Homo sapiens: one gene and its partners. The protein of the gene in region 2 purifies or fractionates together with the protein of the main gene of each other region. This does not show direct contact. Each region holds a gene or a part of one and is shown on either strand. Other genes may lie near its edges. The genes, in order: MRM2, CAMK2D and ZRANB3.

What was found.
Region 1: the proteins of CAMK2D (region 2) and MRM2 purify together in Homo sapiens (co-immunoprecipitation; 3 studies listed by BioGRID and IntAct, with this or other methods). This does not show direct contact.
Region 3: the proteins of CAMK2D (region 2) and ZRANB3 purify together in Homo sapiens (co-immunoprecipitation; 3 studies listed by BioGRID and IntAct, with this or other methods). This does not show direct contact.

What each region holds. Positions count from the first base shown.
Region 1 is NC_000007.14:2,236,375-2,239,286, reverse strand, and holds part of MRM2 (rRNA methyltransferase 2, mitochondrial), read left to right. Parts: intron 1-2,912. UniProt on the Homo sapiens protein: S-adenosyl-L-methionine-dependent 2'-O-ribose methyltransferase that catalyzes the formation of 2'-O-methyluridine at position 1369 (Um1369) in the 16S mitochondrial large subunit ribosomal RNA (mtLSU rRNA), a universally conserved modification in the peptidyl transferase domain of the mtLSU rRNA.
Region 2 is NC_000004.12:113,503,091-113,506,747, forward strand, and holds part of CAMK2D (calcium/calmodulin-dependent protein kinase type II subunit delta), read right to left. Parts: intron 1,946-3,657; coding exon 1,886-1,945; intron 1-1,885. UniProt on the Homo sapiens protein: Calcium/calmodulin-dependent protein kinase involved in the regulation of Ca(2+) homeostatis and excitation-contraction coupling (ECC) in heart by targeting ion channels, transporters and accessory proteins involved in Ca(2+) influx into the myocyte, Ca(2+) release from the sarcoplasmic reticulum (SR), SR Ca(2+) uptake and Na(+) and K(+) channel transport.
Region 3 is NC_000002.12:135,206,199-135,209,855, forward strand, and holds part of ZRANB3 (DNA annealing helicase and endonuclease ZRANB3), read right to left. Parts: intron 2,781-3,657; coding exon 2,670-2,780; intron 1,639-2,669; coding exon 1,236-1,638; intron 1-1,235. UniProt on the Homo sapiens protein: DNA annealing helicase and endonuclease required to maintain genome stability at stalled or collapsed replication forks by facilitating fork restart and limiting inappropriate recombination that could occur during template switching events.

The DNA of each region.
Region 1 (2,912 bases), on a different chromosome or scaffold from region 2:
TTAGCAATGGTGATGATAAAAATAGGATGCTGCCATTTTCAAAATGAAAGACAAGGTAGAAAGGTGCAGTGAACATGGAAATCACCTCGCATGAGACCGCCCGCAGGTACCAGCACCAGCATGGTGGTGTGCATCCTTCCAGGCTTGTGCATGCATAGATCCCTCACATTTTCAAAAGCGATGTTGTGCCATACTTTTCTTGCTAATTTGCAGCCTATTGGAGCTATTTTTGCTTAATGATACATACATATATGTATTATATATATATATATATATATATATATATATATATATATATATATATATATAATTATTATTGTTATTATTTTTGTTCTTCCCCCCCCTCCAGATGGAGTCTCACTCTTGCCCAGGCTGCAGTGCAATGGTGTGATCTCGGCTCACTGCAACCTCTGCCTACCTGGTTCAAGCGATTCTCCTGCCTCAGCCTCCCAAGTAGCTGGGATTACAGGCGCCCGCCACCGCACCCAGCTAATTTTTTCTTTTTGTTTTTTTAAGTAGAGATAGGGTTTCACTATGTTGGCTAGGCTGATCTCGAACTCTTGACCTCAGGTGATCTGCCCACCTCGGCCTCCCAAAGTGCTGGGATTACAGATGTGAGCCATGGTGCCCGGCTACTCTTAATGATGTATTGACATCTTTCCCCAACAGCACAGCTAAATTTCCAAGTCGCATAAGCCCTGGGGCTTTCCTGGTGGCCCCACTGGGGCTGCTCCGTCCGGAACCTAGAAGAGGCTTCATGGCCAGGGCTATGGATTCTTTGCTCTGGATGAAGCTGAGACACAGTTTTCATCTGTTTTGTATCTTAGGGTTTTGAGTAAGATTTTCTATATAAAAAGGTTCTCCTGAATAATGAGATCAGCCAACCGCCCATGCAACTGAAGACACTGTCGTCATTGGGAAAGTTTCATCCTATTCCATGTAGTGCTTGCACCGTAGGTTCTTTAACCAGCTCCCTCACTGTGGCATCAAGGTTGCTTTTGGCTTTTGGCTGGGATGCGTGTGCTGTGGTGAATATCCTTGCCATTTATGTTTCCTGCTGTAAAGCCAGGGTAGCTGCATGCACTGGCATTTGAACAGGGTGAGACAGTCCACCCAGAGCTCTCCCAAGTCTCTCCCAAATACCTTAGAGTAGGGACACTGGTCCCCATTTATTGGTGAGAAAACAGGCTCAGGGTTTCATGACTTGTTGAAAGTGCAGAAATGGAATGCTGGCCCCCTGGATCTGCACATCTGCCTCGCTGCTGGTTTGCGGTAGGTTTGCCATGAACTCTTGGTGTCTACCTGCATCCCCTTGGGTGGCCCCTGCCCATACTTAGGCGGGGATATGCCTCTTCGGGCTTTTCAACAGCATTTTTTTTTTTTTTTTTTTTTTTTGTTTATAGAGCCTCACTCTGTTGCCCAGGCTGGAGTGCAATGGCGCCATCTCGGCTCACTGTAATCTTTGCCTCCTGTGTTTAAGTGATTTCCGGCTAATTTTTGTATGTTTAGTAGAGATGAGGTTTTGCCATGTTGGCCAGGCTGGTCTCGAACTCCAGGCCTCAGGTGATCCGCCCGCCTCTGCCTCCCAGCATCCTCGAGGTGCTTCCTGGTGCTTCCATCGTGGTCAGCCTGAAAGCCTTTTTATTGTTTTTCAGCTCAACATTTATTGACTAAATAAGTGAATTTGTGTTGGAAATGTCAGTTCCTTTTCTCATTGCTGAGCTTATCACCGTGGAGTCCTCCTAGTAACTGATTTCAGTGGTTTCTGTTCCCCTAAGTGCTCTTGAGATGAAGCAGGAGAGTGGCCCAGCGTGCCTTGTAGGAGGAAGTGACAGAAGGAGAGAGCGTGAGCGTGATCTGCCTGGGCTTGTCCTCCCGGAAGTCACAAGCATGCAGCCAAAGCTGTTTGCCTTCGGTGGAAATTTCCGAAGGTTGTAACATACTGGATATTATAGGAGTGAAAGCTCAGGAGCATAAAGTGAGGCGTGAGGCCGGGCGCAGTGGCTCACACCTGTAATCCCAGTACTTTGGGAGGCCAAGGGGAGGATCACCTGAGGTCAGGAGTTCGAGACCAGCCTGGGCAATATGGTGAAACCCCCGTCTCTACAAAAAATTAGCCAGGTGTGGTGGCATGTTCCTGTGGTCCTAGCTCCTTGGGAAGCTGAGGTGGCAGGGGTCGCTCGAACCTGGGGAAGTCAAGGCTGCAGTGAGCTGAGGCCGTGCAACGGAGTGAGGCCTTGTCTCACACACACACACACAAAGACACACAAAGATAACTTGCTGATATTTGAGTAACACCAGTTTGCTAAAACTAAAAAGATGCCTTTGTGTCACCTTACGTAAAACAAGACTTGTTGCCTATAACTGATCTCAGCATCTGCCTCCCCCTCTTCTCACTCTGTACCTACATTCAAAGCCCCCTCTTCACAAGCCCAACGCCCCCATCTCCCCAACAGTCCCCTCCACTGAGGAGGGCCGTAGTTCTGTTGAGAAATTGTCAGAGTTGATAAGCTAAGGGTACAGTCACAGATTTTCTTGTTCAGTCTGCTTAACAGAAAGGCTGTTCCAACGGTAGGGGGAGAGAAAGGGACCGTGTTTCATTCCTAGTGTAAACATTGGAAGTCCAGGTATTTTGAAGATTACCTCATTTTTCAAAGGCGAAACCCCTCAGTCTTCACCCCAGGAAAATGGGACGCCTCACGCCTCATTTTAGCTGGGTCTCCTGAGTAGCTGAGACTACAGCTAATTTTTATATTTTTTTGTAGAGACAGGATCTTGCTATGTTGCCCAGGCTGGACTAGAACTCCTGGGCTCAAGTAATCCTCTTGCTTCAGCCTCCCAAAGTGCTGGGATTTTAGGTGTAAGCCACCACACCTAGCCGATATCAGTTTTTGTACGTTATTTTATATCTG
Region 2 (3,657 bases):
TAAAGCGATGTTAACTGCTGTCAGAGTTGCAGCTGACAATATCTCTGATGAAAGATCTCCCTGGCGAGGCCATGAGATAGGAACCTCCCTACCCAGAAGCAGCATGCAAAAGACCTTATTCTTGATCAGCATTCAAACAAGGCTTTGATATTTAGAGATCTGAAGAGGCACTCACTGTTTCACTTAATCCTATGCTTTCCTTTCTTCTTTAATGAGTGGCCTGTGAACGTCTGTCCCATAGAGAACTGGCCAAGGACACTGGAGCTAAAACTCTGAGATGATTTCAAATTCTCAGAGAAGATATTTTTTCAGTTATATTGGTTTGAAACTCGATTATGGTGTCATTAATTAATACGTAACTGAATACCCTTATAAAATCTAGAGCCATTGGACAACACTTAAAAAAAGACTATACTAAAGAATCCATTTCAAAAGACCATAAAAAAATTTTAAGGAACATTTAAAAAGTTTAAGGGACTAATCATGAACTAGAACTAATCTACTAATCTAGAACTAATCATGTAATCACTATAATTTGAGGCATACTGCTATTAAATCCTGTATTAATTCATATCTAAAAAACTTCTACTTTATGGACTATATATACAGGATATCTGGCTATAAAGTCATGCTTTTTTATGAAGAAAGTATGGGTTTTCTATTGTTTTCTATCAGAAAGCAAAGAAATATTCCCAAGTGGAGAATAACATTCAAATAACTGATGTAAAAAAAGATTCAATATGCATACATCAGTGACATGCTTGGCACTTTCATTGTGTGATATCTTGGCAATGGGGAGGTACTGCAACCCACTGGGAGTTCTCAATCATGGACACTCCCCCACCACTACAGTTTACACTGCTGTAATATTGAGAGACATATCTCCTGCTTCCATTCTCCCTTTCCCTTGGCTACAGCTGTGATCAACATTGTTTTTTACTAGTAGATAACCTGTTATTTTGATGTGTCCTCCTTTTAAATGTTTTTAAATGGAGCCTCATGGTTAACTCAAGTGAAATGATTCCTTAACATTTTTAAATTTATTTAAAATAACAGTATGAGAAGAGCAAATAATTGAAAAACATTTCTGAAAATCATAAATCAAAATATGAAACAGTTTAGGGAAAATGTTATGGAACTCAGCACTGAATGACAGTATTCAAATTCTGAATTTTAACATAATACCATCTCAAAGTGTTAGACTAATTTAGTCGTTAATTGTGTGGATTTGATTGAGATAGACATAACTGGTTTCCACTGATAATTCAAACCTCTATTCTTTGCAGTTTCATTCTTTGGATTAAAGTGAAACAGTGAAAATTTAATTTAAAACATAATAAACAGAAAGCTCTAAATTATCCAGTGCCTCTTTATCTCAGAAAGTGAAGTCTTACAAAGCCCTGTTGTGTTTTAATAAGAGGGAAACGAGAACTCTGAATAAGGTCTACTTTCATGTTGTCTAGCAACAATCCCATTAGCTCTCCTTGATGTAAGCATTTGCATCATGAAAAGAAGAAACCATTGTTTGCATAATCTAGAACTATCATCATCAGAAGAGCTAAGAGCAACCAAAGCGCTGTATTTTGAATGCAGCATGCAGTAATTCCAACTACAGAGACCACAGCTATCAGTACAATGTTCAACAACGAAATGAGATAATCTCATGTTAGAACACACTGCTTGACAACTAACTTAACCAAAAAAAACCAAAAGAAATGAACTTGGTCATATCATAGAAAGCAAAAAAAAAAAAAAACAAAACCCAACACCCAACGAAATAAAATATTTATATATATGTATCTATATAGTGAAAGCAAATGAGAGAAACCACAAAAAAAAAAAAATGTAAAGAACTTAAGAAGGGTTACAAAGAGTCCAGGTATACCAGCGCTGGGGTAGGAATATTTTCTTTGGGGCTGGTTACCACGTTGGCTTTGTTGTTTATCTGTGGGTATGCAGAAAATAGAAACAGAGATGCCTTAAACCCCTTGGTAGCCAATGTCTCTAGATGCAGCATGTCTACATAGAGATGTAGACATGAAGATAAAGAGCCACTGAAGATGAACGTGAAAGACATGGTGATGACTGACAGGAATGATGATCGCTAGTCTCCGATGGTCACACACAGGCTGGACCATGTCCGTGATGGTGCAATGAGAAAACAGACGTGTCTGCTGTTGCTATGCCACCTTAGCAAACAAAGAGCTGCTTCAGTGGAGCTCCAATCAGGTTTCAGAGTATGAAATTAATATAACCATTCTCATACTGTTCAAGTTGGATTCTGTTTCCAAGCTTCCAATTGTTCACAGTTATAAATATATTTCTTTCTTCCCTCATTTTATTCTTGAGCCTGAAGTCACACACACACATACATCTTTCTCTGGGGATCCAGCATTACTTTGCTTAGGAGCAATTAAATTATCCAATGAAAATTTAGATCTTCTGAGAAAACGCTGGTGTCACAATAGCTTTTAAAAATGACAAGTGTAGATCTCCTCTAAAAATTACATCTTCAATTATTAGTGGGGAAATCAAACTTTTTATGTTGAATGTAAAAGGACTTTAATTTTTACAGTTGTGTAAGAGGAAAATACTACATTTTCTGTCAATGTGCTACTGCTATCACTGCAGAATATATTTGGTAATATCATTCCCTTGCTTTAACATAACTGGATTTGACTTTAAAGAATATATCATTACCACTGTGGAAGCTGCGTGGTAAAAGCAACTCAGAGGGTCAATAAGTGTTCTAACGGTCCACAGAGAAGACTCTTTGTAGACAAGTGGCAATCAGAAACTACAACTGAGTCGGGGCACTAAGAATCAAGGACTGAAAAATAATAATCAATCAACATTCTTTTAAACTCATGCATGACAACTTACATTACGGTTCTCAAACAAAAATGTAAGGTAACGTTCATTTTCTTATACTATATTATCTAGGTATTTTATTTATTATTTTCTAAAGGAATATACCTCCATGATTTTAATATAAATATAGATAATGATGTAAAGAGAAACATATACTATATAAAATAAATGAGTATCAAATGAGCATTTCAAGTGGTGACACCAGTTTAATTGTTCGGGTTTTCTGGAAGTCTATATCTGATAACTATATATCCTGTCAAAACTAGTATTGAGAGGAAGATAGAAAGTAACATAAATTAATTTAAATATGTAATATTTTTCCTTTCTTTTCATTCCCTTTTGTCTGATTACTGGTATCGTTATTTTTACAATAAGTTGTGACACTGTGCTGCTTGACCCACAGAAAAGGATGAGAAAACTTCTAAACTTTCCTTTACTGGAAAATTCTATAAATGTTGTCATCAATCTATATTCTGCAGATAGTTAAAACCTTTTTTTTCCTTTAAATCAAAGTGCACAGAATTTAACATGATATTTGTGCAAGAGCCAAAGAGATAAGAGGTAAAAAGTCTATTAAAGAGGGATCAAAATTCAGTATTTATGTTAGTACAGGGTACGTGAGAAAAGGGGAGGGATGCACACACGAATAATTTCCTATTCGGGAAACATGCTAGGCAAAACATAGCCGGCTTCCTGTCAAATGAACAGGGGCACTTATGGTTAAAGCACCACATGTATTTAATATGCTATATTTAGTTTTTATCAGTGAATGCAAATGAAAGAAAT
Region 3 (3,657 bases), on a different chromosome or scaffold from region 2:
GGTGACATTTTGATTCTAATTTGAACAAAGTAACTATAAAATACTTTTTTTTTTTTTTGGAGACAGAGTCTTGCTCTGTTGCCCAAGCTGGAGTGCAGTGGCATGATCTTGGCTCACTGCAACCTCTGCTTCTCAGGTTCAAGCGATTCTTCTGCCTCAGCTCCCGAGTAGTTGGGATTACAGGTGCTTGCCACCACGCCTGGCTAATTTTTTATACTTTTAGTAGAGATGGGGTTTCTCCATATTGGCCAGGCTGGTCTCGAACTCCTGACCTCAGGTGATACACCTGCCTTGGCCTCCCAAAGTGTTGGGATTACAGGTGTGAGCCACTGAGCCCAGCAAAAGGCATTTTTGAGACAACCTGGGAAACCAAACATAGACTTAGTATAATTAAGGAATTGTAATTGTGTTGGGTGTGATAACTCATACTGGGATTATATTTAAAAGAAAGAGAGGAAAGGAAATGAGGACAAGCAAAGAGGGAAGGAGGAAAGGAGAAAAGGAAGGAAGGGAGGAAGGAAGGGAGAGAGAGAGAAAGGGGAAGAGGGAGGGGGGAACAGGGGAGGGAGAGGAAAAGAAGGATAGAAGGAAGGAAGGAGGTCTTTACCTGTGAGAGATACAGAATGAAAATATTCAAGAGTGAAAAGAAACGTTTGGAATTTTCTTTAAAATAATCTAGGAGATGGCCGGGCATGATGGCTCATGCCTGTAATCCCAGCACTTTGGGAGGCTGAGGCGGGTGGATCACCTGAGGTCAGGGGTTCAAAACCAGCCTGGCCAATATGGTGAAATCCCGTCTCTACTGAAAATACAAAAATTAGCCAGGTGTGGTGGCACATGCCTGTAATTCCAGCTACCCAGGAGGCTGAGGCATGAGTATCGCTTGAACCCAGGTGGCAGAGGTTGCAGTGAGTTGAGATTGCGCCACTGCACTCCAGCCTGGGTGACAAGGGCGAAACTCTGTCTCCAAAATAAATAAATAAATAAATAAATAATAAATAAATAAATAAATAAATAAAATATTCTAGGAGAAACAAACAAGTGAGTCAATGACAGATGAAAATGAATGCCAAAATGCTGTAAACTGTTAAAGCTGGCTGATGGACATATGGGTCCATTATTTTCTTTCCTTTTATATATCTGAATATTCCCATGTTAAAATGTACAAAATAGAGAGTCAATATTCATTACTCAGTACAATGCTGCCTTCTATCTATCACATGATTATAACTTACCTGTTCTAATGGGAGCTTTGAAGTCCAGGTAGCATACAGAAGATTCTTCCTCTGACTTTTAGGGGCATCTCTCAGACGTAAAAAGAGTTCTTGTGCGTTCACATTACAGAGCTGACACACACCATGTTCAGTTTCAAATACTTTGGCTCTCAGGTAACTGTTATTAGATCGAATCCAAAACTCTTCCTGACATTTCAGAGAGCAAAACCGTGAATCCCAAGAGTTCGCTTTACATGCTTGCTTAGTCTGGCAAGTGGGTTGCTGACAGCGAAGGCAAAGTGGATTTCCTTCATTATCCACAGCTTGCAAATAGCCTTTGGATGTAGAGGGCTTCACAGTGAGATCTGCCTGGACTGTGTATGGATTTAGAAATGGGACACAGGCTCCATCTTCAAGAAGTTTTCTACAATTGATAAAAACACTGAATAGGTAACTAATGAATGATTAGGCTAAATAGTAATTGCTTCATATAAAGGTTATCAAAGTTTCAATACGGATAAATAGTAAACACAGATCACAGTGTAGAAATAAAATAGTTACAGTCAGCACTCTATATTCCATGCCAAGTAAAGAAGAATGGTGTGTTACAAAAATTAATTGAATATAAATATGTTGCCTCTCTTGGGAATTAACACAAGGGGATGCCCTTGTGTTAAACGATCTGGAAACATGTGAAACATCTGGAGAAGCTGTTAGAAAATGCTTCTTCAGGCTGGGAAAGGACAGGCTAATGTAAAACCCCAACCAAAGCTTAGTGGCTACCCTGCTCCTTAAATATATGTGGTCACACACCTCATTAGCTCAGAGAGGTAATTACAAACTCTCTCCTCCAGCCTCTGCTAGCTCACAGGAAATAGAGTCACAGCCATAAAGTGACAGAGTGAAATAGCTGACAGTGCTGATAGGAATTAGAACAGAAGACTTGCTCTTATAGGTAAACGCAGAGTGGATGAAATTAAACATGATAGGATACAAAACATGATAGGATATGTGCTCAATTTGTTAGAATAAAAGAAAAGGTACACTACTCAATTTTGTTAGAAAGTCCTACTTGGGAAGTAACAACAGCTGCTTTGTCTGTTTTCCATGGTTGTTTGTTAGAAGAGTTAAAAGAAAGACTTCTAATTATGGAGCTCAAGATTCGGGGACAGAGCCCAGATTTAACCTCAGGTCTCCTGGCCTCTACCCGCAAGCCCTGGGGCAGGTTACTTAGTCCACCTGGTCTCAGTGTCCTTCTTCATCTCTAATGTTTAAAATGAGGACACCAGGTACCTCAACAGGTTGCTAGGACAACTGAAGAGCTACTATCTTGTGAAAGTTCTTTGTAACCTCTAAAGTGGTCATGCAAAGGTGAGATATTATTATGAAAATCAATACATAAATGTAAAGGAGTGGAATTAGTACTACTATATACTAGTAGTAGAAAAACCTTACTTTGTGAAAGGATCCCGTGGCCTGGACTCCTTTGTGATCAGACGGACATGGCCCCCAACATTCTTCACTTTGTCCATTGAGGCTACGGCAACATCTTCTTTGGTTATGTATCTAAAACAATGATATGTTAAATAGATTCCCTCTATCTCATATAAAAATGTCTCTATTGCATGTTTACATTGTTCCTTGCAAAAGCAATAGAAGAAAAAGCAAGCACAATTCTATTAACTGTGCTGAAACTCAAGTTAGAAAATGGAATTTTTACCCTTTATCTTGGTGTCCATTATGTGAGAAATACATCTCTTTGTTCCAAATTAGTTTTCTCAAATTTCTTTTTCTAAGAAATTCAAGAGTCATTCAATATCCTTTGGAGCAATTTTCATTTAGGGGAAAAAGGAGTCGGTGTGAGAATAAGAAATGATCAAATACACGCACAACTGACAGCCTTAAGGAAACTGCTTGGCAAGCTGTGCAGAAAATCTCTAACTGTATTTTACCTCCCTCTTGGCCTTCCCTTCAAGGCTTCTCCAAATCACCTTAGTCAGTTATAATAGTGTATCAGTGTTTGGGTAAACTGAGTTTCTTTTTAGTTAACCAGGTTCAATCACATCTTCTGTAATCTCAAGGTTGTTCCCCTTATTATCAGCCCATACAGGGTTTATGGATTCTTCCACAGAAATAAAGCCACTCTTGATATGGGATTCAGAACCTTATTACCCAACACTAACAATACCACACAATGTTCAGGGACTAGAAGTAAAGAGAAGTTATTCCCATTAAAGGTGATGGGGGAATTTAAGTTGGTAAAATGCAATTACCTGATTAATTCCTTCTTATTAATTGGCCTAGTTTCTCTGGTGGTTTACACCTATTGTAGATTTTTTTGGAAATTAGTTTAAACATGAATTTCTTAATATTATTGAGTGCTTCTTAATTAGGCAGCTTGACAATAAAATTAAAGTTCAATCACAATGGAATTGTGCAATCG